Regions from separate parts of the Homo sapiens genome. Here all the other regions are linked to region 1. The links come from fine-mapping of genetic effects on gene expression. A gene starts in region 1. Each other region holds a variant in brackets. All regions are shown on one strand. Distances are from middle to middle.

What was found.
Region 2: its variant is fine-mapped to the expression of TMEM250 in whole blood (INTERVAL, PIP 0.99).
Region 3: its variant is fine-mapped to the expression of TMEM250 in whole blood (TOPMed, PIP above 0.99).
Region 4: its variant is fine-mapped to the expression of TMEM250 in whole blood (TOPMed, PIP 0.99).

Annotation. Positions count from the first base shown.
Region 1 is chr9:136,115,109-136,123,207 of GRCh38, forward strand. It overlaps TMEM250 (transmembrane protein 250), which reads right to left and starts at 3,767. Exons shown (of 2, transcript NM_152833.3): 1 at 3,377-3,767; 2 at 1-1,916. The coding sequence starts at 1,792. The coding sequence ends at 1,373. It overlaps LOC107987142 (a long non-coding RNA gene), which reads left to right and starts at 2,684. Exons shown (of 2, transcript NR_165242.1): 1 at 2,684-2,794; 2 at 6,678-8,099. RefSeq lists enhancers at 1,713-2,288, 2,289-2,864, 4,018-4,594, 4,595-5,169 and silencers at 2,881-3,930, 3,961-4,350.
Region 2 is chr9:136,155,336-136,163,434 of GRCh38, forward strand. No RefSeq gene overlaps it. Among named protein-coding and RNA genes, the nearest start is that of TMEM250, 41 kb to the left of the region's middle. RefSeq lists an enhancer at 1,178-1,678. The variant A/G (reference allele first, on the strand shown) is at 3,993.
Region 3 is chr9:136,139,513-136,147,611 of GRCh38, forward strand. No RefSeq gene overlaps it. Among named protein-coding and RNA genes, the nearest start is that of TMEM250, 25 kb to the left of the region's middle. RefSeq lists a silencer at 5,693-6,005 and an enhancer at 7,288-8,099. The variant G/C (reference allele first, on the strand shown) is at 4,394.
Region 4 is chr9:136,072,252-136,080,350 of GRCh38, forward strand. All of the region lies in intron 1 of NACC2 (NACC family member 2), which reads right to left. Among named protein-coding and RNA genes, the nearest start is that of NACC2, 19 kb to the right of the region's middle. RefSeq lists an enhancer at 2,385-3,135. The variant G/A (reference allele first, on the strand shown) is at 4,689.

The DNA.
Region 1 (8,099 bases):
CCCATGCCCAGAGTGTGGGGACATGGATTTGAGGTGACACTAGGGTTGTCAGTACCACACCCTGTGTCCTGCTCTAGGGTAGCCTCTGCCTGTTGTCCTTGCAATCATTATTCAGGGCGCCCTCCCACTTGCCCCCAAAGTCACACGGCCATGGGCAGTCCACCATAGTGCTGCCGTGACTGCAAGGCTGAGGAGCAGAGCAAGGGGTCCTGGGTGAGACCTCGGCCCATGGTGGCCACCCTCCCTGAACACAGGCATCTGCGCCCCTCCAGCCCACCTGCCCCTGTGCCATCATTTGGGCCCCCCAGACACTGGAGGACAGCGTGAGATAAGATCTCAGCATATACCTGGGGCTCTAAGATGCTGCTGGTGCCACACAGGCTCTGGGGCTGTGTTTGCCGCACTGAGGCCTCTGCCGCCTGCTCCGGACACTTGGGACACGCGTTTCCATCCTGGCTCACTGAAGCCTCGATCTCCCAGGCTTTCTTTGACGGTGTTCCCTCAAAGAAAGAGGCCCAAAGCCCTCCCCCGCAAAAAAAGCCAGAAAGGAATGGAGGTGCCTCCGCAGAAATCCAGAGCATCTGCAAGACATCCTCACAGCCCTCCCAGAACAGGCAGACAGGCCAGTGTTGCTGGAGTCAGCCCCTGGCTCCCAGGGTTCCCCCCAGGCCAGCCCCTGAGCTGGGAGCCTGCTGAGGCCCCTCCCACCTGAGCCCTTCTCCGGCCCCCCGCTAGACTGCATCTACACAATCCAAGGGGACCCTGAAGGCTGGCTGGGGACTCAGGACCCACACAGCCCCTCAGGATGACACACACAGGGTGGTCCGCGGGCAGTGCCAGGCCTCAGGCGGCCCAGGGCAGAGTAAGCAGCTTTGTGGCAGTGTGGTGTGTCAGCGAGGGGAGCCTTCCGTGTCCCGTTGGCTGGGGCTGGGGCCAGGGCACGCAGAAGGGGCTGTGCAGCCAGGAGGGCCCCCCTCCGGAATTGCTCCTGGGCACACAGCCCTCTGTGTCCAGGGGCCTCCCAGGGTGATGTCTAAAGTCCCTGGCAGCTGTGGTCCTGGAGAGAGGCCCACAGAGAGGCGGAACGGAGGGCCCACCCCGCAGTACGACCCGAAGACATGTGAGCAGGAGCCACCGGCAGGTGGGCGCTGCCCCTGAGAGTGCATACGGGGAGGGTGGGTCCAGGAAGCCAGCCTAGGGGTGGTGTCCGCGCCCCCATCACAGAAGTCTCAGCCCTTTCTTTTCTCTCCGTGGGCGCCGGGCAGCAGCGACTGCCTGGGGGATGGGCGAAGGGAAGGCGCTGGCCGACCCCACCCATGGAGAGAACACAGCCACAGGCCGGGACGATACATCAAGCTCGCACCCACGGCCCTCACATGTCCACGAAGACCATGAAGCACCAGCCCAGGCCCCCGACCAGCAGCATGGTGACGTGGATGCCATAGACGAGCAGCTCGTTCACCAGGCGGAAGTCCACGCGCCGGCGGCCCAGCAGCAGCAGCAGCACCGACAGCTTGCGCTGGAAGCGCAGCAGGACGCGAACGCCCAGGTACTGTAGGCAGAAGAGGGCGGCCAGCGCACCCCAGAGCGCCGCAGTGAACAGGCTGCAGCTAAAGTAGAGTAGGAAGCGGATGAAGCCGTACAGCCAGCGCGTCTTGATGTACACGTCGAAGTTGTTGTACTTGGTGCGGGCCAGGTGGGAGGCGCGCACGGGCCCGCAGGCCGCATGCAGGCAGGTGGTGTGCGGGCCGTGGAAGGAGCGCACCCGCCGCGGAATGGGCATGACCGGCATTGGGCCCCGGCGGCGGCGGCGCTAGGTCGCAGTGGCGGCGGCGGTGTCCAGGCGGCTGTTGGCGTAGGGGTCATGGGCGCCTAGGCCTGGGAGCCCGCAGCTGACCCTGGGGGGAGGCGTCGGCCTGCGGGGAGAGCCGCAAAACCCACGTCAGTATGAGGACACCATGCGGATCCCTCCCCAGGCAATCAGCTGGCGAAAGTGGACACAAACTCCAGCACCAGGACTACGGGAAAATGGAGTCCAGGGCGGGATCTGCAGGCACTCCTGGGCTCTTTTCCACAAACCCTCCCAAGGATACTTCCAAGGGGCCCACCACCTGGGGAAGCCAAAGTGCTTGTTCTAGGGCAGCACTGGGGAAAGGGGGCCTTGGGGACAGTGGCCAGGGGAGGCCCCCGGAAGTGGTCAATGCCAAAACGGATGGGAAGGGGCAAGAGTGGCTCTTTCCTGCAGGATCCTCGCAGCTCCCCACTAGCTGGACCACACTCTGCTCTTAGGCAGTTTGCCCGTTACTGCCCTGGTCTTCTGCGGCTGCCTGACCCAGGGCTGATGCAAGCCCTTAAATGGCATCTGCAAGAAGCCACCACAGGGCCGGGAAAAGGGACTCCAGGGCTCGCAGGTGAACCGAAAACGAGCCCGGCGGGAGCAGGTGACTCCAGCAACCTGCTGGGTGCCAGATGGACGGCTCGGGGGCCGTGGGGTCACCTTGCTGGGCCTGAACCCTGGCACTGTCCTTCCCTAGCAGTGACTTTGGGCAGGTCACCTGACCCCAAGACGGCTCCTGCTCTGTCCAATGGGGGTGCCAATAGCACTGCCTTTGTGGGTAGCTGTGGGAGGGAAGGGGCTGGGCCTGGCGTGCACAGTGGGGTCGGCCCGGGGCCTGGCAGCGGCCCTTACAGACTGGGCTGCAAAGAGCAGAGGCGGCATTTGGCTCTCCAGCTTCACCTAGTAAAGGCCGTTTATACCTTGCCGAAATAATCTGTAGACGGAATGAACTCAAAGGTCAGGAAATAAAATCTGAGCAGGAAAGTTGGTAACATTACAGGGGACTGTTGCCAAGAGCTTCGCCTGCCTTCAGATTCAGCCTGGGGCCCTGCCGTGGGGACCTGGCCAGGGCGGAGGAGGGAGGGGCCGGGGCCGCCTGACCCTCCCGTGCCCGCAGGGGCCCGACCTCGCCCTCTCCCTCCGCCCGGCTCCTCCACGGGGTGCAGGGGCCAGAGCGGCCCTATTTAAGGCCGGCCTTGGCCTGGAGCTCGCCCCGGCCGGGACCCCGGCCATGGCGGTGCCACTCAAACGCGACTCGGCGGAGCTGTGTCCCCGCAGGGTCTCGCGGCCCGCGGCTCCATCCGGGTCCCTGCGTTTCTGCAGACGCCCGCTCGGCCCGGCCCATGGACCCAGGACTGTTTCCTCGGGGCCGCAGAGACGCAACGGGCCCCGGCCAACTCCGCGTGAGCACCGGGCCTGCGCCGCGCCGCGCCGGGCCCCCTGGCTGCAGAGCCCCTGCCGGAGCCACTTCCGGGTCCCGCGCCGCGCGTTGCCCTGGAGACGGCCCCCGCCTAGGCCGGGTCCCCGACCGCAGCTCACCCGGTGCCCTCTCCGCGGCGGCGCCGGCGTCCCGGACCTCGGGGCCGGCCGGCGGTGCTAGGGGCCGGGCCTGCGGGTGCCCCTGTCCCTCGGGGCTCCGTGCGCAGGGCGGCCGCATGGTGCTGGGGCGCGCGGCTGGGGGCGCTGGCAAGGCGGCTGAGGGCGTGGTTCACGCGTCGCCGGCTGGGGTCGCCCTGCAGGTGAAGGGGCTCTCGGGCGCGGCCGCCGGAGGCGTTTGGCCTAGCGTGGGAGCCGTAGCGCCGTCCCTCGACGGCCACCGTAGGGCGGCCTCACGCCCCCTCCACCCGCGCCGACCGAGCCGCACTTCCCTTCCCCCTGCTCCGGGCCCGCGCTGGGCGTCCCGGACTCGTCGCTTCCCGAGGGCGTGCGTGCGTGCGTGCGTGCGCACGCTGCGAGCAGTCCGTAGCGTTCCCTCCCCCGAACGCCCTCGGTGCCGCGCCTGGTCTTCTGCGCCTGCGCTTGCCGTTCCTGGGCCGCGCCTCCGCGCACGCGCTACCGCATCCCGTGGAGAGGCAGTGCGCAGGCGCGCTTCCGTGGAGCAGTCCTTTGGCCCCAGCAGAGGGCTTGACCGTGGTCCTGGCCCCGGACTGAGGTGTCTGCGACCCGGCGCGCTGCTGCCGTCGCTGGGGTGGGGCCGGGCCCCGGAGGAAGCCGCTTTCCCGGCGGGGGTGGGCGGCCCAGGGACCGGGAGCAGGTCTGGTCCTCGCGGGGCCGTGTGCGAAGGCCTCCTGCGCGGCCTGGGGCTGGGAGGACAGGGCGGCGGCGGGAATGAGGGCGCCCCCCAGGCTCCAGGAGGGCGGGGAAGGGTGGGGGCGGCTGACGCCACGCGGACCCGGGCGGCACGGATCGGGTGTGTAGCTGCGAGGCCCGGTGGGCCGGCGGCGACGTCGGCAGCCGAAGTAGGGACAGCCCCGGAGCACGAGCAGGCCCAGCAGCAGCCCCAGGGCCGCCCCCCCGCCGCCCCCCAGTGAAGGAAGGGGACTTGTGTTAGTGTCCTCACGCCTGGTTCGTACAGGCTGGCGGTTGTCCTGGGGGTTTCCAGCGAGGAATGTGTTGGGGAGCGCTCCTGGGTGTGGCTGCTGGGTAGGAGGGGAAGGCAGGGTCAGCAGCCCCTGGGGCGACCGTAAAGTGGGTGGCCCTTCAAATTCAAGGCACTGGAACAAGGGGGCTGGGCCCTCCTGCCCACCAGGCCCGTCATTGGCTGCAGGCCTCCCGGGACGGCGAGCTGGCTCCTGGGCCCCTGTCCTTTGGACCAGGGCCGCCCTGAGGGCTGGCACAGCTACCTTCTCCACTGTGGCCCCATCCCCGCCACAGGAGAGAGAGCCGCCTTTACCCGACATGAGCAGGAGTTCGAGGAACATCTGGACGAGCAAAGGCCACCAGGAGGTAGCACAGCAAAAAAGGCCAAGAGCCTGTTTTCTTTACCGATGGCTGGCGGCAAATATTCCGAAAGAAACGTGTCAGGCAAGAAGCGCTAGTTCACGCCTGTCATTCCACCGCTTTGGGAGGCCAAGGCAGGGGGATCACTTGCCCCAGAAGTTTGAGACCAGCCTGGGCAACATAGTGAGGCCCCTGTCTCTACAAAAAACTTAAAATCAATAAACAGGTCTCCTTCCTTCCTCAATAGTCCTGTTGGTGGCTCACCTCTCTGCCTCTCCAGATGTGAGGCAGATCCACACGTTTAGCTATTGAGATAAGGCTGGGCGTGGTGGCTCACACCTGTCATTCCGGCCTCAGATCTCTTGTGCCCAGGAGTTTTAAGACTAGCCTGGGCGACCTGGCTGGCAACATGGCCTCCACAAAAATAAATAAAACATTTTAAATATATAAACATTGAGATAATAGCATCTTGATGCCTGTCTTCATTTTTTGTCTTCTGTTTTAAGGACTATTAGAGACAAACTAACCAAAGATAATTCTCCCCTCCCATGTGGCTCGTGCTGGGACGCCGGCACCGTGAGATGGCGCCCGTGGCCAGATAGAGGGTGGCGTGTAAAGCAGGTGGTCACCCGTCACTCGACTTTTCGCGTGCTGGTGAGGGTGGTCGCATGTCCATGGATCAGGGCTCACACCTGGCCCATCTGGTGGCTGTGCCATGGGAGGAGCAGAGCCACAGCCCCGCTCCTTGCTGTGGGTTTCCCGTGTCCTCCCTGCCCTGCAGTCCCCTGACTCCAGCTCTGGATTAGACACCCCCTGCTTCCCACTGTGCACCCGCCCAGAGAAGCACAGCATGCGTGCCTGCACTTGCCCCCACGCTGCTACCCTGCTCTGGGTACCAAGGACACAGGCACAGCAGAGCCCCCACCCTCGAGGCACCTGTCATCTTGTGACAGGGACAGGCTGAGGGGCAAATGACCAGAAAGGGTGGCAAGTGCCATGTCAGACATATGGTCTTCATACAGGGGATGTCCCAGGACTGCTGGGCCAGAGACCCCTCCATGTGGGTCAGCATCACCCAAGCCAAAGGCCAAGGAGGTCTCTTGGGGGGTGTGGCCGTCAGAACAAAGCTGCCAATGCGCGTACTTTTAAAGGTGCGGTCAGCTAGTGAGGCTGTGGCTGGCCCTGGCTGCATCCAGACCCTGGAGTGTCCTGCAGCCAGGGGCGGATGCAGGTTTTGTGGGGCCTGAGGCTTCTGTGGTTTAAGGGACCTTCCTTAAGAAAATACAAAATTAGGAACAGGCCTTGAAGCTTCTGCTGCTAAACAGGGTCAGGTGAACCCACTGCCAGCTGTGCCCAGAAGACAGTCCCCCAGGCTGAGTCAAAAGTGGTTCATAGGCCGGTCATGGTGGCTCACGCCTGTAATCACAGCACTTTGGGAGGCCAAGGTGGGCAGATCTCAAGGTCAGGAGATCAAGACCATCCTGGCTAACACAGTGAAACCCCGTCTCTACTAAAAAACTACAAAAAAAAAAAAAAATAGCTGGACGTGGTGGCGGGCGCCTGTAGTCCCAGCTACTGGGGAGGCTGAGGCAGGAGAATGGCATGAACCCAGGAGGCGGAGCTTGCAGTGAGCGGAGATTGCGCCACTGCACTCCAGCCTGGGCAACGGAGTGAGACTGTCGCAAAACAAAGAAAAAAAAGAAAAAAAAAGTGGTTCACAAAGTCACGTCTAGTGTGACCCCTCATCAGCACAGACGTACTCCTAGGTGTCCGTTTCTGGGTGAAGTCCTGGAAGCAGATAAATGTTTGCAGAGGTGATCTATGTGTGGTGGGATTAAAGAGATGAATATATTTTACTGTTTTTTTAACATTTCTGTACTTTCTGATTTTATTTTTTCAGCATGAACAAACAAAAAAAAGCCGGATTTGGACAAATAAAAAGAAGTGCATGTCAGCCCGAGTGTCCTGAAACATGTTCCTGTATTAGAATCTCCAGGAAAGCTGGGGCCCCCACTCGCCACTACCTCAGGCTGGGCCCGCAGTCACGTGCTTCTCCCTACAGGAGGGTTCTGTGTCCTGAATTCCCAAAGGGTGCAGCTGTCCCCTTGTCGCCTTGTCTGTGTTGATGGTTCCACACTCTCTGGTCAGCCACCTGCCCCGCCAGTCTCTGCTCGCCCATGGATGGGGATGACCACTCTAGCTGTGAGGGTGGCTTCCCGGGCTAACCCTGCTGCTGCTGCCCATTGCTTCCAAGGCTGGGATATCACTTGGGGTTTGGGGTGAGGGGACAGTAAGGGGGAGCCCTGGTTGCCCTTTCCAGGAGAATGAGTATTTAAGTGCGGAGTTGTTTATTACTTGACTTCAGCAGAGGCGCCATGGTCGGGGAAACGCTTCATGTGCCTTGGGTTATAGGGCAAGTCCCATCTGTCTGCCTTGAATTTCGGTTTGGAGAATCTGTAAGCTCCACACACGTGGAAGCGTCTGTGCCCCGGGTGTGGGTTCTGATCTTGGTTGTGTTCGTGGCTGGACGCTGTCCTTGAGGCCACCCCTTGGCACCCTTCACAGAAGACAGTGGGGGTCGCCCTTCCCTGGCTGACCCTCCAGAACCGCCAGCCTCCCCTACCTCCCTGTGAAACCAGGGTACAGGGCAGGAGCCTGGACCTCTTTACAGTTGCCTTTTCTCTCTCTCTGTCCCTTCTCCATCTTCCGAGCTCCTACTCGCCCTTCAGGACCCAGCTCGAATGCCCCATCTCTGGGAGGCGCCTTCAATCTTGGGCTGCCCCTTCCGTCACACCCCCTGTCCCCTGTCTCCTGCCTCCCCTTCCTCCTCACACAAAGCCACCCCCGCCTGTTGGTGGCCTGTGTCTCCGCTGGCCCAGGGCTCTCTTGCCGTGGCCACCGTGGGTTTTGGCCTCGTGACCCAGTCCATGCGTGCACAGCGCAAGTAGCTTCCCAGGACACCGATTTCCTCCCCGGCCGCAGCTGCTTCTGGTCCTCTGCCCACTCCCGGGTTCTGCGCCTTCCTGCGCCCCCGGCCTGGCCACAGCTCGGTCACCCCAGAACCACCGTGTGCTGGGGATTTGTCACGGGTTTGTCCTGACGTGTGAGGTCCAGCCGGGGTCCCCATAGCCTCCCTGTCCCCGTCCCTGTCCCCGTCAGGCCTCCTGCTGCGCTGTGGACAGTGGCTTGGCGCCATCTGCTGGGCTGGTGCCTGTGGTGCCGCCAAGCGCAGGAGGGACCCAGCGGCTCCAGGTCTGTGGGAGACTTTAAGTTGGGGCCGAATGTGGTGCTCGCTGCCGACGCAGAGCCCCCAAGCTGGACG
Region 2 (8,099 bases), 40 kb after region 1:
GCAGATTTGGGATGATGAGCGCGTCTGACTCTGATAACCAGGGAAAAGTGGAAAATGAAATGGAAGTGGCCAGCAGTCAACAATCCATCAGTTTCCTCAACTGCTCTTTTAAACACGGGTGACCACACAGCCCAGAAACTCCCTTCCAGGGACTACCCGAGAGATTGAAGGCAGGCCCCACAGAGACGCGCCCAGCTCCTGCTCCTCAAACTGCTCCGTTAAACACGGGGTGACCACACAGCCCCGAGAGAATGAAGGCAGGCCCCACAGAGACACGCCCAGCTCACGGTCACAGCAGCATCATTTACAGCAGCCAAAAGGTGGAAACAGCCCAGGTGTCCTCCGGCAGACGGGTGGATTAACAAGCGGTCTAACTGCGCCATGGGGTATAATTTAGGCTTAAAAAGGACGCAGCGCTGACACACGGGAAAACACGGCGAGCCTGGGAGCGTCAGGCCGAGGGCAAGAAGCCAGGCACAAAGACCACGTTATGGGATTCCATTCACAGGCAGAGCCTAGAACAGAGACACCTGTAGGGACGGATAGTAGATTCAAGGTTGCCAGGGCTGGCGTGGGGGGCTGGGGAGGTGACTGAGGACATAGGCTTTCTTTTTTTTTGAGATGGAGTCTTGCTCTGTCACCCAGGCTGGAGTGCAGTGGTGTAATCTGGGCTCATTGCAACCTCTGCTTCCCATGTTCAAGCGATTCTCCTGCCTCAGCCTCCTGAGTAGCCGGGATTACAGGCACCTGCCACCACACCTGACTAATTTTGTATTTTTAGTAGAGATGGGGTTTCTCCATGTTGGTCAGGCTGGTCTCGAACTCCCGACCTCAGGTGATCCGCCCACCTCGGCCTCCCACACTGCTGGGATTACAGGTGTGAGCCGCCACACCTGGCAGCCTTTCTTTTTGAGGTGATGAAAATGTTCTAAGATGGACTGTGCTGACGGCTGCACAGCTCTGCGAATACACAAAACACCCCACTGTTCTCGCATATTCTGAACGGTACACTGCAGGTGAGTGACTTGTACAATATGTGAATTACATCTCAATAAAGCTATTGTTCGAAAAAGCAGCAGCCCCAGCAAACAGTGAATCGGGGCAGCAGAGGATGGAGCCCTCTCCTCCTCCTGGGGGGACAGATGGCGCGGCCCCCCGGGGTTCGGCACCCTTGTCTGGTGCCCTGTGCTGTGGGGCTCCAGGAGCCCGCCGGGCGGCCATCGCCGGGGTGACGGCTGAAAGGCGGGATTGAAAGCCTTGGAGGGGCCTCCGTGGGTTGAGGTCAATAAATCTCGCCGGCTGTGCGGCCTCCCGCCCGCTCTGTTCAGCAATCTGTCCGGCTGCCTTTCACCAGCCCAGTGGCTCCCATTACCTCGGGGGAAGAGCCACAAATCACCGTGACAGACCAATCAACAGGCCGGGGAATTTTTACACACGCTGCCTCTTGAAGGATGAGTCCCCCTCAGCAGAGCATCAGAATAAATCTCCTCAAAAACTTTCCCCTGAGCCCACCTCCCCCCGGGGCCCCGAGTGGCTGGTGGCCTCCCCCGAACTCACCAGGGCCAAGCCCACCTGCGTCCCTTCCGGCTGGCGGGGCTGGGACCCTCTGCCGCCGTCCCCACTGGACGCCTCCCTGTGTCCCAGGAGGCCGACTCTGAGCTGGGGGTGGTCTGGGGGCCACCAGGGCTGGCTCTGACCAAGTCCACCCCGAGCTGTCCAGCCACGTCCCTGCCGGGACACTGCTGGCCCCTTAGTCCCCCATTCAATGTTGTTGGGCCCTCCCAGCAGGGCCGGAACACCTCATTTCAGCAGGAAGAAAGAAAGCTTTATAAAATAATTCATAGGAAACTTAAAACACTCAGACACCAAGAAATTGCAAATGGGGAAATATGATGGATTATGGGCTGGAGGAAGGCGACTTCCGCAGGCAAAATTGATCCCTTGGAAAATGGTTTTGTCTGCTATGAAAAATGGGTAATATCTCGCTGGGGCTCAAGAGCTATAATCCCGAAAATAATTTGCTTTTGATTTCCTTTTAGCCCCTGTTCTCCCCCCAACCCGTCCCCATTTAGGAGCCCTGGGCCTGCTCGTGGTGGGGGCCCCCTCTTTGTCAGGGCACCTGCTGGGGGCTCCCCCACTTGGTATTGGCTGGTCTACTTAGAGAGAGTCTTTTCTCAACTGATGGCTGACGGGGGTCGGCTCCCAGCGTGGCCGCCTCCCATGCCCCCAGCCCTCCTCTCTTCAAGAATTCCCAATTAGCTTGTCCCTTATCAGGGACTTTTTAAAAACCAAGCATCCAAGAAAAACATCGCATCATCTCTCAGCTGGGCTTGCAGGAAACCGTATCATTTCCTCCCCACCAGATATGCCGAGCAATGTTTCAATCAGAGATTCATGTCAGTACAACAGAACCAGAGAGGGGCATCCCAACCCCTCACCCTACAGAGGGGGGAGCTGGGGCCAGAGGGGAGGGTCTCTCCAGTCAGAAGTGGAGCTGAACCCAGGGTGGGCTTGGCTTTGGTGGAAGGTGTGGACACAAGCCCAGGACTCCAGCCACTGTGGAGAGGGTGGGGACAGAGCTATGAGCTCCGAGGGCCGAGGCCAGGTCAGAGCTCCTTCCTCTGAGGCCAGCCCTGCCGGGGGCTTTCACGACACCCAGACACTCTGCTCCTCCCCAGGCCTACTAAGTTGGGGTTTCCAGGGCAAGGGCAGGAGGCAGCCGTCCCACGTGGGAGAGGTCGTGCCTCCCAGTGCCTGGAGCTTTCTGCAGGTACAATGCTGCCCCTTCAACCCGTGAGCCACCAAAGGTCTCCCTGGGAGCAACGTCCCCAGCGGCTCCAGGTGGCTCCACGGGGTCCCACCTGCCGGGAGTCTCTGCAGTTCCCCTGTGGGCTGCAGCCTTCAGGGCCCTGTGGCAGCCCCGGGGACACTGGCAGGGCCACAGGGCCACTCGTGGACAAAAGACCTTGGGAGCAAGGGTACAGAGTGCTGTCCCCTGAGGTTGCTTTGTTCCTGTGGCAGCTGCCAGGTTTTCCAGGGATGTGGCTCCTGTAGCAGGAGCCCCAAGTGAGGGGTGCTGGGCCCAGGCTTCCAGGAAGAGAGGCCTGGAGGTGGCTGCTCAGCATCTCCTCATGGCCCAGGGACCTTTCCCTCCAGGGTCTGTTTCTTGAGGGTCACTGCGTGTCTCCAGCAGCATTGTCCTGTGGCCCCAGGGAGGAAAGCATGGGTGACCTGCCATGGGGAAGGCGTTTCCTGGAGGAAGAAAGGGCCAGAGATGCTGGGTGGCCACCCTGTGATGGGTGAGGGCCAGGCCTCATGCCTCACTGCTGGCTGCTCTGCTGCTGTGTCCCTGCAGGGTGACACAGGCACACCTTGCTCTGGGCCAGATAACTCCAGGAAAAGCCTCCATCTGTCAGAGCAGGTGCATGCAGCCCTGTGGGAGAAGCACAGCCAGGGACTCAACCCATTTCTTTCTGCTTGTGCAGCCGGGAAGTAGGGCTGTCCCGTCCCTTACCTGTGAGGCCGTTGAACACTGGCCTCCTTGGGCGTTTGTGCATTCACTCCCTAACCAAGTACCCTGACAAAGCTGAATGCATACATTTGTCTTGGAGCCTTCTGGAAAGAGATGATAAACCTCCCAAAGTTCACCCATCAAGGTCAGCACAAGTGATGTCCTGAACCTTAAGCTCCAGTCAAGCTTGGCAATGCATTTGTTAATTGATTGATTGATTGGTTGATTGACATGAAACTTCCTGATCCCTTTCCCAAAGCTGCCTGTTACATAGCACCGGTGATCCCCCACCCTCACCCCATGCACCGCAGCAGCCGGTCCTAATCCAGCCATCACCAAAACGTGTGCATGAGAGAAGGTATGGAATGGCTTCCCTACCATTTACCCACTGGCCTCTCCCAGAAGACCATCAATGGCCAAGGGCTCTGTGATTCAAGGCCGATCAGCTCTGTAATGAAATGTACCTCCCTTGGTGTATTTC[A/G]GGGACATTTGCACACCTGGGCTGGCAGGGACATGGCCACCGTGAGGAGATCTATTTCCCTTGCCTTGCAGACGATGGACCGGGCCCGTCTGTAGAGCCGTGGTGGAGCTGGCCACACGCACACGCAGGCCTATTTTTCAAACAATTGATTAATTCCGCAGCGATGTTTGCTGCCGTACATCACCTATGGCCGCACTGTGGGGCTTTCCGGTTCTCCTCCCACCTGTAATATTCCACAGCTGATGGCTGGAAATGGGGAAAGCTTTCTCGAAAACACTCATTCGGGGCTTACTGAGGTCATCAATCAGCTATTTTCAAATGTCAACTTTGAAGGCGAAAGGGGGATGCTCAGAAAACAGGACCCTCATTGGGAAAGTGGGGGGCAGGCTGGGGCAGCGGGGGTCTGTCACCCTAGGAAGCTGGAGCCTAGGTGACCTCAAGTCTTCGAACCTGGTCTGAGGGGCGACTGAACCCTGAAAGCTTGCTGTTGGCTCTCCAGATCCGCAGAGACGGGTTCAGGGTTGCCAGGGTCCCTCAGCGGAACCTGCTGCAGGTGTCAGAGGCCTGGATATGACCAGGCGGTCAGGGCCTGGTGCACCCGAGAATGTCAAATCCACTTCACAGAGACGTGAGCACCTGCCGGGGGTGCTATTTGCCCCATTCCTGCTGCCCCTCTCCGCAAAACAGGAGCCTGAACTGGCTGCCCCAGGGTCTTCGCCAGTGTGGGACCACGGCCTGGAAACAGCGGGGTCAGAATGTGCACGAGGCCTGGGCTGCGTGAAGCCTGTGTCGGTGATTCCACCGCAGGCAGCCGATGGAGATCCCAGCCCTGGAAGACCCCATCAGCCTCTGGTTACCTAATTAAAATGAAAACCCCTTCCAAGAACTCAGCACCGAGTTGGCCGTCCTGCCCCCAAGAGCTCATGTGTCGGGGAGGGGGCCACTCAGAGCCCAGGCCCCAGTCTAGGACTCACAGTTACCCAGAAAGAGGAGTGGCCAGTTATTCCCGGGACCGGACTGGAGGCAGGTGGGCGGAATGACTCAGGAAAAGCCACTGCTTGAGGGACCCCAGCACAGCAAGGTGCCAGGCCTTGGTCCGAGGAGGCCGGGCCCAGGAAGCTGGAGTGTGTGGGGCATGTTGGGAGGGTGGCGTGGTGGCTGCACTGGGGCTGCCTGGTCACTGCAGGGGTGAGGCTTGGAGACTGCAGGAGTGGGAGGGCCTGGGTGGGGCCCTGCTCTCCATGAGCCGGCCCCTATGGCTCTCCCTAGGGAGCAGACACCTGCAGGGAAGGCCGGGCCAGCTGAGGGGCAGCCTTGGAGAAGCAGCTGCAGGAACATGATGTGGGCTGTGTCTGCAGGTGAACGGCTTCTACAGGGCAGTGTGGGAGGGGAGGTTCCCAGGAGCGGGGAGGCCTGGGCTGCGCTCCTCAGGCCCCTCGCCTCTGGTGTTCCCTGGAAGGAGGGGCGGGAAGCTGGCGGCCCCGGCTGATTGTATTAGACAGGCCTTTATTGATCCAGCTCTTGCTTATCCCTGGTGTCTCATTTCAATAAACAGCAGTTTGGAGAAATTAGCGAGGGACCCTGGCTCCTTCCCCTCCCCCCTGCCCCTCTCCCCCATCTTCCTTTGGATTTGTCAGGAATGGAAGATTTATGAGGATTCGAGTGAGATTCTAATTTGTTCCTGAGACAGCGGGCTCAGAGCATTGAGGGCACGGGCCAAGCCCTTGCTGTTTACATGCCCTGACATGGGGACACAGTCTGGGCCAGGCCAGGGTCCTGGGCAGGGGCCTCACTGCTCAGCCACAGCTGCAGTCATCCGAGGAACTCAGCATGGTGAGAGGGAGATGTCACCAGACCTCTGGGGCCGAGTCAACCATGGGAGAAACCATCAGGAGGCAGCCTGGTGGGAGGGGACTGCCCCAGAGGGCACCACAGAGTTCTACCAGTCCTGGGCAAGTGGTCGTCACATTGCCCGGGCCTCAACCCCTCATCTGCAGGGGAGATGACAGATGTATGTGTGTGTGTGCATATGTGTGTGTGCATGTGTGTGTGCATATGTGTGTGGGTGTGTGCATATGTGTGTGGTGTGCGTGGTATGTGTGTCTGTACATGAGTGTATGTGATGTTATGTGCACCTGTGTGTGTGTACATGGCATGTGTGCATATGTGGTGTGTGCGCGCTTGCTGTGCTTTGGCACACATTGACACTGGCAGTGTAAAAAAACTCCCGTTTTTTTACCCAAATGCAACAGACATTTTCCCAAGTTATTCAATACTCCTTCTCTTTTTCAAAAATATATTTGTCACAGCTACAGAAACTCAGGGGATGGGCTGTAGCATAAAACCCTGAGTGGTTTCGCTTTTCTCCAGACCTTTTGGGGATGCTGTCCCTTCCCTCCCCTCCTTGCCCCTTCCCTCCCTTTCCCTTCCCTTTCTTTGGAAACAGGGTCTGGCTCTGTCGCTCAGGCTAGAGTGCAGAGGTGTGATCACGGCTCACTGCAACCTCCACCTCCTGGGCTCAAGCGATCCTCCCACCTCAGCCTCCTGATTAGCTGGGACTACAGGCAGGAGCCACCACACCGGCTATTTCTGTATTTTTCATAGACTTGAGGTATTGCCATGTGGTCCAGGCTGGTCCTGAAATCCTGGGCTCAAGCGACTGACCCACCTCGGCCTCTCAAAGTGCCAGGATTACCAGCGTGAGCCACCATGCCAGTCTGGGATGCTATTTCTTTATAAATGACATGTCCATGCAGGTGCCAGCCCAGCAGCCTCTGCCTGGAGGCCCCCTTGGCTGCCCTGTCTCTCCCTGGTGCCCATGGGGTCCCTCCTAGTCATAGGGTCCCATTTAGCGAGGCCCACCCAGCCCTCCAGGGAGCCCCCTCCCTCCCTCCCTTCCATTCCCTGCTTATTGCCCATCCCACCTCCAGCAGGTGGGCTCTAGAAGGGCCAAGCTGGCTTTTGTTCCCTGCTCAATCTTCAGTGTCTAGAACAGTGCCTGGTACACAGTGCCTACTGGATGATTTTTAAAATAGATTCTGGCCAGGTCCAGTGGCTCATGCCTGTAATCCCAGCATTTTGGGAGGCTGAGGTCAGGAGTTTGAGAACAGCCTGGCCAATATGGTGAAACCCCATCTCTACTAAAAAAACAAAAATTGGCTGGGCGCGGTGGCTCACCGCCTGTAATCCCAGCACTTTGGGAGGCCGAGATGGGCGTATCACGAGGTCAGGAGATTGAGACCATCCTGGCTAACATGGTGAAACCCTGTCTCTGCTAAAAATACAAAAAATTAGCCGGGCGTGGTGGTGGGTGCCTGTAGTCCCAGCTACTCGGGAGGCTGAGGCAGGAGAATGGCGTGAACCCGGGAGGTGGAGCTTGCAGTGAGCCGAGATCAGGCCACTGCATTCCAGCCTGGGCGACAGAGTGAGACTCTGTCTCAAAAAAAAAAAAAATTAGCCGGGTGTGGTGGCTCGCACCTGTAGTCCCAGCTACTCAGGAGGCTGAGGCAGGAGAATCACTTGAACCTGGGAGACAGAAGTTGCAGTGAGCCAAGATCACACCACTGCACTCCGGCCTGGGTGACAGAGTGAGCCTCCATCTCAAAAAAAAAAAAAAGATTCTAACAATCATTGACTTTAAAAAACAGCTTGATTGAGTTATAATTCTCATACCGTATAATTCACCCATTTAAATTGTGTAATTCAGTGGGTTTTGATATATTACATTAATTTTTAAAAATTGAGGCAAAACATATATAACATAACATTTGCCATTTTAACCTTTTTAAGTGTGTAATTCAGTGGCATTTAATACCTTCACATTTTTGTGCAACTACTACCACTATTTTCAACACTTTTTATCCCCCAAACTAAACCCTGTGATCATCACACGAAAGCCCCATTCTCTCCTTTCCCAGTTCCTAATAACCACTGTTCTGCTTTCTGTCTCTATGATTTTGATTCCTCTAGATACCTCATGTACGTGGAATCACACAGTATTTGTCTTTTTGTGACAGGTTTATTTCACTCAACAAATGTCCTCAAGGTTTATTCATGTTGTAGTATGTGTCAAAATTCCATTTTTTTTATGACTGAATAGCAATCACT
Region 3 (8,099 bases), 24 kb after region 1:
AAAAAATTAGCCAGTTGTGGTGGTGCGTGCCTGTAGTCCTAGCTACTCAGGAGGCTGAGGTGGGAGAATCATTTGAACCCAGTAGTTCAAGCCTGTGGTGAGCTGTGATCACACCACTGTACTCTAGCCTGGATGACAGAGTGAGACTCTATCTCTTACCAAAAAAAAAAAAAAAAAAAAATCAATCAATCAATCAATAGAATAGAGGTAAGGGCTGAGTGCGGTGGCTCACACCTGTAATCCCAGCACTTTGGGAGGCTGAGGCGGGTGGATCACCTGAGGTCAGGAGTTCAAGACCAGCCTGGCCAACATGGTGAAAGCCCGTCTCTACTAAAAATACAAAAATGAGCTGGGCATAGTGGTGCATGCCTGTAGTTCCAGCTACTCAGAAGGCTGAGTCAGGAGAATTGCTTGAACCTGGGAGGCAGAGGTTGCAGTGAGCTGAGATCGAGCCACTGCACTCCAGCCTGGGTGACAGAGCAAGACTTGACTAAAAATTAAAATAGAATAGAATAGAATAGAATAGAATAGAATAGAATAGAATAGAATAGAATGGAATAATGGTTGAGCTTTGCGAAAACACTCTGGTGGTTCTTCAGACTCTGAAGCACAGTTACCATGTGACCAAGCAATCCAATTCCTGGGTTCAAACCCAAAAAAATGAAAGCAGGCACCTGCAAGAACTTGCACAGGAATGTCCACAGCAGCGTTACTCACAAAAGCCAAAATGTGGAAACAGCCCCAAGGCCCATGGATGGGTGAGTGGATAAACAATAGATCTATTGAGGGAACTGTGATGTGGGCCTAAAAAAAAAAGGAATGAGTGGCGTGATCTCGGCTCACTGCAGCCTCGAACTCCTGGGCTTATGTGTCCCTCCCACCTCAGCCTCAAGTAGCTGAGACTACAGGTGCACACCACCATGCCCAGCTTATTTATTATTTATTTATTTTTTGAGACAGAGTCTCACTCTGTCACCCAGACGGGAATGCAGTGGCACGAACTCAGCTGACTGTACCCTCCGCCTCCCAGCTTCAAGTGATTCTCGTGCCTCAGCCTCCCGAGTAGCTGGGATTACAGGTGTGCACCACCAGGCCCGGCTAATTTTTGTATTTTTTAGTAGAGGCGGGGTTTAACCATGTTGGCCAGGCTGGTCTCGAACTCCTGGCCTCAAGTCATCCACCTGCCCCGACCTCCCAAAGTGCTGGAATTACAGGGTGAGCCATTGTGGCCAGCCTAATTTATTTATTTTTGTAGAGACCGGGTCTCACTGTGTTGCCCAGGCTAGTCTCAAACTCCTGGGCTCAAGCGATCCTCTGGCCTCGGCCTCCCAAAGCGTTGGCATTACAGGCATGAGCCACTGCACCCAGCCAAATGTTCGAACAGATATCTGGGAACCCAGCAGCCAAGTCAAGTTGACACATGAAATTAACCATCACTCCATCCTCACGATTCTGAACCGCACGCCTCAGTGGCATTAAGTGCATTCACGTTGCTGTGCAAACAACATCTTCCTCCATCGACACAGCTTTCCCTCTTTCCAAACTGAAGCTCTGTTCCCACCCCCTCCCCCCGCCCCTGGCGTACACGCCTCTGCTGTCTGTCTCCAGGGCCTCTCGGAGGAGGAATCAGGCAGGCCTTGCCTTTTCATGGCTGGCTGCTTTCCCTGAGCACAACATCCTCCAGGCACGTCCCCATCGTAGCTCGTGCCAGAATTTCCTGGGGTTTCTTTCTGAAGTGAAGAAAATGTTCCAAAATTGACTGTGTTGATAGTTGCACACATCCGTGAGTATACAGAAAGCCATTGAATCATACGCTCTAACTGGATAAATTGGATGCGATGTGAGTTCTATCTCAATAAAGCTATTATTTAAAATATAGAGGTCAGCTGGGTGCAGTGGCTCACACCTGTAATCCCAGCACTTTGGGAGGCCGAGGTGGGCTGATCACCTGAGGTCAGGAGTTTGAGACCAGTCTAGCCAACATGGCGAAACCCTGTCTTTACTAAAAATACAAAAACTAACTGGGCGTGTTGGTGCATGCTTGTAGTCCCAGCTACTCGGGAGGCTGAGGCAGGAGAATTGATTGAACCTGGGTGGCGGAGGTTGCAGTGAGCCGAGATTGCGCACTCTAGCCTGGGCAACAGAGGGGGACTCCGTCTCAAAAAGCAATAAAAATGAATAAAAATTCAAAATAAATAAATAAAATATAGAGGCTAAGTGCAGGCCGCCTGCCCCGTCATTCCCTATCTTGTGAGGGGCTGAGCGCTAGAGACCAGAAGCTGTGGATTTTCCAGCCAGGCCCTATTGGCTGAGGCACACGTGTGGCTCCCCCAAGACAAGAAGCTTCTGGAAACTCATGGCGCCCAGCACCGAGCCAGCGAGCCAGCTTCCTTCCCTGCTAAGCCCATCCCACCCCGGCAGAGCTCCCTTGTCTCTGCCCACCCCAACCCGGAGGCTGCTCACCCTCAGCTCCTGCCCAGCTCTGGCCTCCTGGCAGCATAGCGAGCTTTCTAGAGCATTCTGGAGCTTTCCAAGGCAGCAACTGCAGTCCCAGCCATTCTCCAAAGCTTAATTCTGCTCTCACCTAGTCCCAGCTGTGACCAGTGCCCGCCTCAAGAAGCCTACAGCCCAGGGCCCGCCCTCCCTGCAGACCGGACAGCAACGCCACCTCTGGGAGACTCGTGGGGACGGGGCCCAGGGCAGGCTCACAGTGGGAGGCTGGCAGCACCTACCCGGGGCAGGGCCTCCTCCTGCCACTACCACGTCAGGCATCACTGAGAAGGAGGCAAGGCCTAGAGCAGTCGGCACCCTCTGCAGAGCTGGCACATCCAGGGAGCTTAGGGTCCCTGCATGCTTCTGGGGTTCAAAGGGCAGAGGGTGTGAGGGGCAGCAGGGAGGCTTGAGACCCTCTGGACTTCGAGATCACCATTTCTGCCCCAAAGCCGATGCCTCCACCAGCACTGGCCCCTGCAGTCCTCGCAGCTCCCCTCGAGCTCAGGAGAAGCCCGCAGGACCCCACTCTCCCTCCCAGGGCTCCCTCTCCACCTCCTGGGGCTCCCTCCCTCCCCAACCTCCCCACACTCCCCAGGCTCCCACACTTGCCAGGCCCTTCCCCCAGCCTAACCCTGGCTCACCATTTACTCAGCCTATTTAGCATCGTAATGCAGACTGGTTGTGCTGGGTCCTACAGGTATTGATTTTGCTCTATTTTACTGGTTTTAACTTAATGACTAGAAACCCCAAACAAATAAAATTTCCTTTAAAAACTCAGAGAGATCAATGCTCATGGGCCAGAATCCCTATTCTACGAGCCGAAGGGACAGTCCCCTGGGTTCTCCGCATCATCGCTCATGGCCAGAGGCTCCCCGGGGGCTCGGGAAGGATCCCTGGGTGGGGGTGGGGGCAAGCATACCCCACCTGCTCAGGGCGGCCGCGTCCCTCCTAAAGCGAGACCCCCACCCTCTGGCTGGTGAGGCTGTTTAAAAGCCTGTCTCCAGGTTGTAAAACTGGAAAAATTTAAAACTTATGATTCATCTGTTTCCATGTGTCCCAGGCGGCCTCTGAGGTTGGCCGGGCTCTGAGGCAAGGAGGGGTCCCGACCCTGGGCATGGATGCAGATGTGGAGGACCTCTCGGAGCACGCAGGTGCTGAGGCCCCCAGCCCAAGCCGCCAGGACGGTCCCCATTCCTGGCTGGTGGGCTGGGCCACAGGTCAGTCCGTGCCCCATGGCCTGGGGGACACTCCTCCCGTGCCCTCCTGCGGGCTGCCCAGGGCGGCTGCCTTTGCGATCCCCAAGGTCTCCCAGAGGTCCTGGGGTGGCAGGGGCCCCAGTTTATCCAGTGGAAGGGGAAACTGAGGCAAGGTCCTGGACAGGGAGTCCTGGCTCTGCCTCTTCCCGTGAGACCTGGAACAAGTCTCCCGCCCTCCTAGGGTTCCAGGCTTGTGGTTGTGAAACCAGGGGGCGCTCAAGGGACACTCAAGGCTCTCAGTTCTCCCCATCCAAGTCCTCCAAGTCAACAGGACCCCCAGGAGTGGGGGAGAGGAGGAGCAGAGCTGGCCGGGGGCCGGGGTGGGGAGTGGAGGCCTCGCCCTCCCTTGACCTCCCGGATCTGCCCCTGTGCTTCCGGGAGGGTGAGGAACCAGCAAGAACCCCCACCCCCTGCACCGAGGTCCCCAGGCCAGGCCTGCAGCCTCCCTGGAGGGAGCCCTTTATTGCCCCTCCCCAGAGGCCCAACCCAAGCTCCTCACCCTGATGGCATTCATCCAAGAAGCCAGGATGAGGGTTCCCATCCCCACTGCTCACACTTGGGAAGGTTTTAAAACCAGCTGGGACCAGTTACAGGGACAGCAGGACTTCTGTGCCCACTGGGGCCAGCCCAGCTACCTCCAGGGG[G/C]TCTGGGTTGACCTTGGCCTGGGAAGCCTGTGCATGCCGGGGAGGGGGCACTGGGCTTTTCGCCTGCTCCCTCAGCCCAGTCTCTGGATTGCACTGGCCCCCAGCAGCTGGAATCCCTGCTCCCCGGAGGCCCACCCATTTCTGCAGCCCAGCCCCCCACCTCACCCCTCTCCCTGCTAGCATTTAGGCAGCTCCAGGGACACCCTGGTCACCCCATCCTGACTTGGGCAGGATCATAGAGCATATGATTTAATCTTCTTGTGCCTCAGTTTCCCCCTAGGTGCACTGGGTCCATGCCTCTGGGCTGGCAGAATTTGACTGCTGGGACACTTAGGCCCCTGGAGGAGTCAGGAACAGCCCCCTGGCCGGCTCTGCAGTGCACACGTGGTCAGGCCCTGAGGTGGTATCTCCTGCAGGTCTGGAGAGAGGCTGGCAGGTGGGTGGAGAGGCTGTTGAGAAGGGCACTGCCAGGGTCCAGGGCAGAGTCTCCACGTCCTACCCACCCACATGGGCTCCCTGGCTGTGCGCTCTGCAGAGGGTGACACGTCCAAGGAATGGGGAACGCAAGACTTCCCTCTGCTGGGTCACGGCTCCATCTCCAAGTCTGGGCCAGCAGCCGGAGGGCTGGATGCTATTTGCAAATTAGTGTTTCACCATTAGACTTTCGGCTGTGGGAGGTGGTGACAAAGACCTTGGCCCCCCACACTTAGCTCTTGGGAACGGCTCTGCCTGGGTTCCCCCGAAGCACAAGCACATGTCACCCGCCACCCACTCCGGGCCCTGTGGGTCCAGCTCTGCAGCCCAGCCCACCACTTACAAACACAGTAGGTCAGGCAAGAGGCTTCTGCTCCCAGGTCTTGATTTTCTCATCCACACAACGGGCCTGAGCTCTACTGTGGAGGCCAGGACAATGGCAAGGACTGGAGGAGGTAAAATCCCGGGACCTCCAGTCCAGTGCCGCCCCACGTCCTGGGGATGCTGTGTGGATCGAGCATTACAAAAGCATTTTGTAAGAAGGTGTTTGGGGGACTCCAGCCCCACTGGACAGATGGGAATACTGAGGCCCCAGAAGGCACCTGTGGGAAAGATGCAGGCTCCAGTCCTGGTTGCGACACAGACGCGTGCCTCTCGGATCCTCTCTGCCCGCCATTTCCCCAGGGGTCAGCGTTCTCAGGAATGCTCAGGGCCTGGCGGCCCACCTGCTCAGAAGGCCCAGGCAGCTCTGCCAAGGCCAAGGGCAGCAGAGACCCTCCAGCAGGCCAATGTGCCCAAGAGTCCTCGTCCTCCAAAGCCCAGTAGCTTAAGCACGATTGAGGGATTCTGCAGCTGTGTTTCTGTAAGGAGGAAATCATTGACTCTGGTTGGGGGCAGGGCATTTGGGGGGCATACCTGGAAGGGGCACCATCACAGGAGCTGGGAGGCTGGCACCTGGACGGGTCCCATGGGACCCACTGAAGAGTGACCTACATGTGTGAGTGGCCCATGGCTGGGACTTGGAGAGGGGCAGGGAAAGCAGGGGTGCCGTTCCAGGCTCCCAGACAGCGTCTGCTCCGGGCAGAAATTGTTTATGCGTCACCCACCCAAGGCTCCCGGGGCTGGAGGGGCAAACCCACCCACTCCTCTCTCCCCTCCTCCCCTTCCTCGTCCTCCACGCAGTGGGGGCTGCCTGGCTTTGGGATCCTCTTCCATTTCCTCTCTGCAGACATCACTCCTGGACCCAGTCCCCAATCCCTGGAAGGTTCCGGAGCCTGAGATGCTCTCCCCCCAACTCAGCCCATAGGTGAGACCTTGGCCTCCCTCACCTGCTAGGAAGCCCCTTGCTCGGGCTGCCTGCCCTTGGGGCCTCCAGGCAGAGCTGGACTGAATCTACTTGAGGGAGTAGCACCATCCAGATGGGCCCCCAGTGGGCCGGGGAAGGGCAGGAGACCTGCACCTTGCCAGCTGCCCTGGCTTCCCGGCACCCTGGGGGCTGGTGGAGCCCTGTTATCACTATGTCGGGGAGCAGAGCCCTGGGGTCAGGATGTGGGTGGCAGGAGGGCTTGGGGAACTTGGCTGTGGACATCTGGCCACCTGATTTGGAGCTGGGCAGCACTGGGCAAGTTCTTCCCTACCCCTGGCCTCAGTGTTCTCAGCTGTAAAATGGAATAAGGACAGGTTGTGAGGCTTAAACAGTATAAAGTGAGGGAAAAGGCTTAGCTCATTCAGTCCTGAGAGTAGCCACCCCGAGGAGGCCTGAGGGAGCGCCTCATAGACGATGCCTGTCTCCACACTCAGGTGGTTCTAAGAAAGAAAAGTCATCGGAGGACCCGTCCGGCTGCCACTCCAGCCCCAGCAGCCACCCCTGGTCACCAGGCCCGCACCTCCGACCCCCTCCTCACTCAGGCCTTAGAAGGAAAGAGCTGCTGCTTCTACAACGAGGATGCAAGACCTGGGCGGGACCCCCGGCATTCCGGCTTCGCCGTCCTTCTTTCCACCTCCAAGGGCAGAGCCACAAAAGGAACTTTCTGAGCAGAGCCCAAAGAGGTCCCTGAGGTCCCTGGAGCCTCCAATGGGCCCCCAGAGTCAGGGCAGAGGTGGCAGGTAAGGAAGTGTGGACATGTGTGTGGTGTGTGCACAGTGTGAATGTGCTTGTGTGTGTGCATCTGTGCATGTGTGTGTGTGTGATGTGCAAACGTGCACAAGTGCATGGGTGAGTGGTATGTGCGCACACGTGCACGTGCACACGCATGTAAGCATGTATATGCACGACCTGCTGTGTGCAAACCCGTGTGTGCTGTGTGGTGAGTGCACATGCCTGTGCAAGCAAATGTGCACGCATGTGGTACAGTGTTTAAGCATGCACATGTGATATGTGGGTGCACAAATGCATACGTACATGTGTGATATGTGCAATGTGTGTGTGCATGGCCGTGTGTATGAGTCCACGCACGCCATGGGAGAAAGGAGCCCAGGCTGGCTCCAGGACCCGCAGAGCCCCCCTTGCTGATGAAGTTCCCAGGCCCAGGCCACCCCCGTGTGGAGGAGGCACCGGCCACGGAGTCGTGAGTGGGCAGAGCTCCTCTCCCAGAGCCTGGCCAGGGCGGGCCCCACTTCCACCCAGCTGGTGCGTGCCCCTGCCTCTCAAAGCTGGTTTAATCTGATTGCTGCTGACCGGGTGAGAAGCTCCCTACCTGCCAGATGTTCTCCAGGATTCAATTGTTAATATCTTTCATCAATTATTGAAGGGGAGGGCTCCCTCTTTTCTTAAAAAAAGCAGCAGCACCGGCGCACAGGAGTGGCTCAGGTTACCCGGTCTGCAGGTGCCAACTTGGCTGCGAGGAGGGCAGGGAGGAGCTGAGCCCCAGGCCTCTCAGTGAGCTGGGTCAGCACCCCTGGAACAGCTGCCCGGGAAGGAGGGTCCCTTAGCTGGATGGAAGCTCCTCTACTGCAGCCCCTCCCTGCCTGGACCTACAGGGACTCTGATCTCTTGATCCTCACAACAGCCCCCCAGGGTGCCTGGCGGAGGGGATGGCACAGGGGGCTGTGCCTGCTCACAGGCTGCGCTCCCTGGGGCCGCATGTCTTGGGGCAACACAGTTAAGGGCTTGTGGTCTTCCAGGCTGGCTCCTCTGTGCCTGGCATCCAGCCCCTAACTGTCCACTGGGACTGGCTGGTAGCTGGGCCGTGAGAGCTGACCTCCACCCCATTCCCTCCATGGGGAGCGAGCG
Region 4 (8,099 bases), 43 kb before region 1:
AAAAAACCCAAAGGCAGGGCATGGTGGCTCATGTCTGTAATCCCAGCACATTGGGAGGCCACGGTGAGCAGATCACTTGAGGCCAGGAGTTTGAGATCAGAATGGCCAACACAGTGAAATCCTGTCGCTAATGAAAATACAAAATTAGCCGGGCGTGCTGGTGTACACCTATAATCCCAGCTACTTGAGAGGCTGAGGCACAAGAATTGCTTGAACCCAGAAGGCAGAGATTGCAGTGAGCCAAGATCACACCACTGCAATCCAGCCTGCACAACAGGGCAAGACTCTGTCTCAAAAAAGAAAAGAAAAGAAAAAAAAGGCTGGGTGTGGTGGCTTATGCCTGTAATCCCAGCACTTTGGGATGCCGAGGCGGGCGGATCACCTGAGGTCAGGAGTTCAAGACCAGCCTGACCAACATGGAGAAACCCTGTTTCTACTAAAAATACAAAAAATTAGCTGAATGTGGTACATGCCTATAATCCCAGCTACTTGGGAGGCTGAGGCAGGAGAACCACTTGAACTCAGGAGGCGGAGGCTGTGGTGAGCCTAGATCATGCCATTGCACTCCAGCCTGGGCAACAAGAGTGAAACTCCGTCTCAAATAAATAAATAAATAAATAACCCCAAAATGAATTGGAGACTTAAACATAAAACTAGAGGGGAAAGAAAAAAACACACAAGAGAATAAAATATTTGTAGAATCCGGGGCTAGGCAGAGAGTTCTTCCATAAAAGAAAAAAACTGATAAACTGGACTTTATCAAAATTTAAAAACTTTTGCTCAGCACAAGACACAGGTAATGGGATGAAAAGACAAGACACAGGCTGGTAGAAAAAACATGCCAGGAACACATTTAACAAAGGACTAATATCTAGGCTACATAAAGAATTAATTGGCCGGGTATGGTGGCACGTGCTTGTAGTCTCAGCTACACGGGAGGCTGGGGTGGGAGGATCACTTGAGCCCAAGAGTCCAAAACCAGCCTAGGCAACATAGGGAGACTCTGTCTGTACAAAAAATAAAAATAAACTAGCTGGGCATGGTGGAGCGCACCTGTGGTCCCAGCTACTTGGGAGACTGAGGTGGGAGGATCGCTTGAGCCTAGGAGGTGAAGGCTGCAGTGAGCTGTGGTCTTACCGCTGCACTCCAGCCTGGGTGACAGAGCAAGACTGTCTCAAAAAAAAAATTTTTAATAAAAAATAAAAAATGAGGACCCCAGTAGGAGCTGCAGTGGACAGGGGGTGTGAGCGTGGATCCAGCTGTATCAGAGTATAGTCCTGCCCATCAGGGGAGAAGAGGCGCTTGTCTCAAAGTGAAATGCACAATTGGTCTCGAATGCCAAAGAGAACAGGAAAAGACAAAAGACTCCAGTGGATGTATGGACAACCCAAGAATGTTTGCAGAAAGTCGACTTGATTTCCCTCGGTTCATAATACCTGGAAATAAGGAGTATGAAAAGCAGCTGCGTGTGTGCTACAATTTTGGCACAATTTGCTCAGTTTCAATGGGTCTATTCCTAATTGTTTTAAAGGTGCTTATGCATCCTCTACTGCCAAGTACTGCATTTGCGTCCAAGCAGGATTTGGTGTTCTGTCTGCTAAAATGCTGCCTGGTCTTGGAGTATCTGGTCTGCCCAGAAGCAGGGTCAGCAGTAAGCGGTGATCCTTCCCTCTGCCCTGAAAGCAGACCCTGGCTCTCACCGAAGTAACCAACAGGGATTTGCACAGACTCCGTCATGTCCTTGACTATTTTTTTAAAAAAATTAAGATCTTGGCCGGGCACAGTGGCTCATGCCTGGAATCCCAGCACTTTGGGAGGCTGAAGCAGAAGGATCACTTGAGTCCAGGAGTGAGAGACCAGGAGAGATGGTAAGATTATAGTCTCCACAAATAATTTGTTAAAAAATTAGCCAGGCATGGCCAGGCGCGGTGGCTCATGCCTGTAATCCCAGCACTTTGGGAGGCCGAGGAGGGCAGATCACGAGGTCAGGAGATCCAGACCATCCTGGCTAACACGGTGAAACCCCGTCTCTACTAATAAAATACAAAAAAATTAGCCGGGCATGGTGGTGGGCGCCTGTAGTCCCAGCTACTCGGGAGGCTGAGGCAGGAGAATGGAGTGAACCCGGGAGGCGGAGCTTGCAGTGAGCCGAGGTTGTGCCACTGCACTCCAGCCCGGGCGACAGAGCAAGACTCCGTCTCAAAAAAAAAAAGAAAAAAGAAGAAAAAGAAAACAAAGTTCTTCATTCCAGAAACATTAAGGTTCTTTATAAAGATGTTAATAATTTCTGAGGTTATTTAAAATTATGTATCATCCCTTCAATTAACACAGACGGACAGGTCAAAACCATTCCTCGTTCTGTCACAGCAAGGCTGCCTGCCTTCCTCAAGGAACCTATCTCTGGTTCAACATTGACTCAATACTGACCGTGCCTCCACCAAGTCACACCCTAAACTGCACCGACAGATGAAGCTGGACCTTCCGAACGACCATCCCCTGTGACTCCCAGAGGGCCCATGTCGGTGGTCACATTCTGTTCCCAGCTCACCTGCGGGGCTCGGGGATGTATCACTCAGCCTCGGCGTCTACACCTCACACAGAGCGGCAGGAAGCGTGGCCTTCCCAGCCGAGGCGGAGTCGGCAGGGCCGGGGGATGCTGGCGGGAATGGGTTCTCGCACGGCCTCCTTCTGGGAGCCCGGGAGCTCTGTCCCCCACTCACTGTCGCGTATGGGGCTGGGGGAACAGCAATCGGATCCTCACGAAACAGTGACGTGAGGCCCAGTAGAGGACGTGACCTCCTCCAGGCCGACGCTCTTGGTTCTGCGTGAAATGAGCCGATTCCACCTTGTCCTCAATGGCGGCTTCTGCTCCCTCAAAGCGGCAGGCCAGGAAGTGGGGAGCCCCAGGTGTGGGTGCAGCAGGCTGCAACGCCCCCCACACACAGACTTGGCCTCAGACAGCTGTCACATGGCACCAGGGAGGTGGCCAGGACTCCAGGACACATTCTGGTCCAGTCCGGCACTGACCGGGATGAGGGAGAGCTGGCTGCGGCCGCCTGGCTGGGATACTTGGGGGGAAAGCCCTCCCTAGCTCCCCCGAGGCTGGCTGCTGCGAACTGACTGAAGCGCTCATTACAGGGTGTCCACTCTCCCCGGGCTTGGAACTCGGAGGCGAATGTCTCCCCGAGCCTGTTTCCCTTTCGTAGACGTCGGCAGCGGCTCCGTGTGAACCTGCCGTCTCCTACATCGCGGTACAGTTTCTCAAACAGATCGCGCAGCTGGGGCCAAGCCCAGGCTGTCGTGCCTGAGGACGCATCTTCTTTTATCGGGCATAGGCCCACATTCAGGGTTCGGGGTCGCAGGTCCTGCGGGAGCAGAGCCTGCAGGGCCCCCTCAGGAAACCTGTGCTGATGCTGTCCTGAGCTCCCTGTGCCCGGTCTTCCACACGCGGGGAGGACACCCCCGTGCAGACTGCGCCCAGGGGAGGAGACCCACCCAACACCCACAGGCCCTGTCGGTGAAACCTCAGAGACAGGGGTCTTGGGTTTGGGCTCTGAGGCTCGGGACACAAGATTCAATAAGAGCAAAGTCATCTCCTCTGGAGTGAGAGGCTGCTGAAAACGGAACCCAGGCTTTCCTACAAAGCGCCCAGGAGCAGCCCCGCAGCCCTCCATGTGCTCAGTGCCTGTGGCCCTGGGGCTGCTGCCCACTCCTCTGCTGCATCTGTGACAAAACTCCGAGACACCCGCTTCTCAAAGCCCTGCATGAAGGTTACGTGTGGTCACGAAGAGATCCTGCAAAGAACAGTCATCGAAAACTTGGAAATAAAGTAAACAGGCACCCTTCGCGGCCTCTGCCTGATTTGCAACTCAGTAGTGATGACACCCCATACCCCGTGACATCCTAAGTCTCCTATATGCAACCAAAAGAAAAGCAAATGATTTCCATCCAGTAGCAAAGAGAACCCCAAGGGGCAGCGTTTCCCGGCCCTGCGGAACTCGAAGAAGTGCTGTAACTAACCCAACAATCTATCCAGCCTCCTCTCCTCAGTGACTCTAAACACCCAGTTCCTCAAATGTTCTCTGAGCCAGGTTTCCTGCCCATACCACGACAAAAATGAAATGAAATTCTGATGCACCCCCCAGCCCGGTGAACCTCAAAGACACTATGCCGAGTGAAAGCCACCAGGCACACACAGACAACGCCACGGGGTTCCACTCACACGCGGGCACAGAGCAGGACAGTTCAGAGACAGGAAGCAGAACGGAGGTTTCCAGGGGCTGGGGGACTGCGGAGGGGAGTTGGTGTTCAATGGGTGCAGTTTCGGTCAGGGATGATGAAAACGTTCTGCAAACAGAGGTGAGGGTTGACAGCCATGGGAATGTTCTTACTGCCACTGAACTGTGCGCTTAAAAAATGGTTAAAATGGTGAATTTCATGTTGTGTATATTTGACTACAATTTTTAAAAAATGTATTGGCCTGGTGGTGGCTCATGCCTGTAATCTCAGCACTTTGGGAGGCTGAGGTGGGTGGATCATGAGGTCAGGAGATCGAGACCATCCTGGCTAACACGGTGAAACCCCTTCTCTACTAAAAATACAAAAAAAATTAGCCGGGCGTGGTGGCGGGCGCCTGTAGTCCCAGCTACTTGGGACTAGGCGGAGAATGGCGTGAACCCAGGAGGCAG[G/A]GCCTGCAGTGAGCCGAGATCGCGCCACTGCACTCCAGCCTGGGCGACAGAGCGAGACTCTGTCTCAAAAATAAATAAATAAATAAATAAAATAGCCGGGTGTGGTGGCGGGCGCCTGTAGTCCCAGCCACTTGGGAGGCTGAGGCAGGAGAATCGCTTGAACCCGGAGGTGGAGGTTGCAGTGAGCCGAGATTGCGCCACTACACTCCAGCCTGGGTGACAGAGAAAAAAACAAACAAAAATTAGCTGGGCGTGGTGGCGGGCGCCTGTAGTCCCAGCCACTTGGGAGGCTGAGGCAGGAGAATTGCTTGAACCCGGAGGTGGAGGTTGCAGTGAGCCAAGATTGCGCCATTGCACTCCAGCCTGGGCGACAGAGCAAGACTCCGTCTCAAAAAACAAAACAAAACAAAAAAAGCAGAAGAGAAACATGGCCTTTGGCAAAACAAACAAACAAACAACAAAAACCCTAACAGGGCACAAAGGACATTGTTGATAAGTCGTGCTTCATTAAAATATTGAAAAATAAAGACCAACACTAAGAGAAAAAACAAGCCGAGAAGGACAGACCTTTGCAACATATGTATCTTCAGCAAAGGGCGTGTGGTCAGAGTATGGAAAGAATTCTACAAATTCTACAAATCCATCAAGAAAAGGGAAACGCACAGAGGAGGGAGGGGCAAGAGCCCAGAACAGGCCCTTCACAGAGGAGAAGGTCCCCAGGCGGTGACACCTGAGCAGGGGGCAGCTGTGTGGTCACCCGGGAAATGCGAGGGGACCCCAAGGACTCTGGCCACCCCCACACCGGGGAGCAGGCAAGGGGGCAACAAAATTGTGCTTAAAATTATTTATAAAGTAATAAAAGGTAAGTGAAAGTAGTTTGAAAAGTGAATAAGGAATCAGTGATGAATACTGACTTGTGCTTTATACGCAAAGGTGTGCCTTTGGGAGTGAAAACCACGTAAATAATATCAGTCCAATCATAGTTTTGTTTTGGGTTTTTTTGTACTTCTTTTTAGTAGAGACGGGGTTTCACCATGTTAGCCAGGCTGGTCTCAAACTCCTGACCTCGTGATCCACCCGCCTCGGCCTCCCAAAGTGCTGGGATTATAGGCATGAGCCACCGCGTCCGGCCCAATCATACTTTTATAATCACGAGGTTTGCCGTACTATCTTTAAACAATCCATGCACGAGTTTACAGACACAGTGGTAGAGAGTGGGATGGACCAGGCACCCACTCAAACCCTCATCCCCAAGGCCGGGTGCATACCCACCACCTGGCAGGGGTCCCCAGGACCCCCACCCCCCGCAACCTTGTGGCCAGCCCCACTCGCCTGCAGGCCAGAAGACGCCAGAATTCCACGAAGCTCAGTCCCTCGGAATGCAGAATTCATGAGGGGGACAGGCACATCTGGGGGCAGGTTCTCCAAATAATTCTGGCTCTCTCATTTCAGGAACTAAAGGCCCAGGCTTTTCCATTTAATCTTTAAATGGCAATCCTTAATACAGGTTTTTCCATTTAATCCTTAAAGTAAGCGCAGGAGAAATACCATTACCCTACTGTACAGATGAGAAAACTGAGGCTTGGAGGTGGGACGTGGCCCGCTCACTGGCCCTGGAACCGTACCTGGATGCATAGACGGGACTCCAGGGGAATGTACTCCTAGGCCATAAACCTGTGCGAGGCAAGAGGGGCCAGCCCAGCCCCGACATCGGGACAGAAAGGGGCGTGGGAATGGCTGGGGGACAGGTCAGGCACCTGAATCTCAGCCACATCAGAGCTGAGCAAAGCGAGCCCCTCAGGCAGGGCTGTCATCACGAGTGTGGCACCACAGCCACCGCCGCATCCTGGTCCCCAGTAAGCACCCCCAGCGTGGTCCCCTCCAGGAACTGAGGCTCTCAGGGCAGGGCCTCTCGCCCCTTGTCCAGGCGACCTTGTGGGTAAGCAGGGGAAGCCAAGGCAAACTCAGGAGCACACACCCATCCCCACGGGGAGCAGATGCCCTTAGCACCGTCGCCGGCATGATGCCGCGCCGCCGCCGCCCCTCTCCGATTCCCTAACGGTTCCCGAGGGAGCACTGAAGGTAAATATGTTAATTTGACTTCAATCATAGCTTCTTCTTTTTTTTTTTTTTAAGTGCACACGGTATTAGTTTAGGGCACGTAACCTGAAATCTACTCACGTATGTCTGTGCGTCCCGTCCTTAACAAGAGAAAGCTTGAGCTCTTGCCAAGAGGGCTAAGGGCTGAAGAGGCTGCAAGGTGCAGACATCCTCCCAGGGTGGGAACTGCACTCTCTGAGCTGAGGGGGAGACCAGGGAGAGGCAGGGCACTTGCCCAGAGTCCCACACCCAGGAAGGGCTGCCTGGCACCCAGCCACCTTCAGGCCTGATGGAACGGGGTGCCATCCTCTGGCTTCCAGGCAGGAGACACTCCTACAAGCACAGGATGCCAACTGCAGAAGCCAATGCGTGGACTCCGGGGGCCCTGCAGGTGCAGCCAAGGAACCAGGATCTCCAGACAGGCCCCAGGCTGTACAGGCTGGACGCCAGCAGGTGGGGCAGCAAGCCCCTCCTCACCCGCAGGCATGGGCACCCCATGGCCTGCTGAGAATGACACGAAGGAACAGGCTGACTCACTGAGTGGAAAGGCCACTTGGCCCTCAACCGAGGGCAGAAGAGAGGCCAGAGGCCCCCCAGAGCTCCTTCCTGGGGCCCTGCCGTGGCCGGCACTCCCCGAATGCACTCCAGGGTCACCAGAGCCCTGGAGCGTGGCTGCAGAAGCCAGATGGGTCTCAGGCCTCCCACTACCCATTCTGCGACTAGGAATAGGAAAGTTACGAAATCTTGAAGCCTGTAAGATTTCAGGCCACCAGGACAGGCAGCAGCCGGGGAAGTCTCAACTTTCCAGGACCCCAAGGCCCCAGGGGCCAGGCCACAGCCGTGCTGTGGAAGGAGCCGCTAGCCCTGCCACCTGTTCCCCAAGGAAAGCTTTTGGAGCTGTTCCCCAGGGAGAGGCGGCCCTCCTGGAGAGCTACAGATGGGCTCTGCTGGCCATGGGGCTGCCTGGGCCAGGCCTGGGGCTGACCTGATAGCCCACACCCTTGGCCACCCACTGTAGTCATGGCCCAGCTGGCAGAGACACACAGTCCCTACCCCGGGCGTGGCTGCCAGCCAAAGCCCATGCCACTGTGCCCCACAAAAGCCAACGGTTTGACCACAAGGGCCTCCTGGCAGGGCCCTGTAGCCACGCCACACCAGGGATGGTGCCAGAGCGGTACTGCACCCCCAGCCTGTACAGCCTCATCCCAGCAGGGCCCCCGCACCCATCTCTGTGCTCTCCTTCTCTGAGCCCAGGCCCCTTCGCTGCCCCTACATGGGATGCCACCTCTCAGGGCATCCAAAACCCAACCC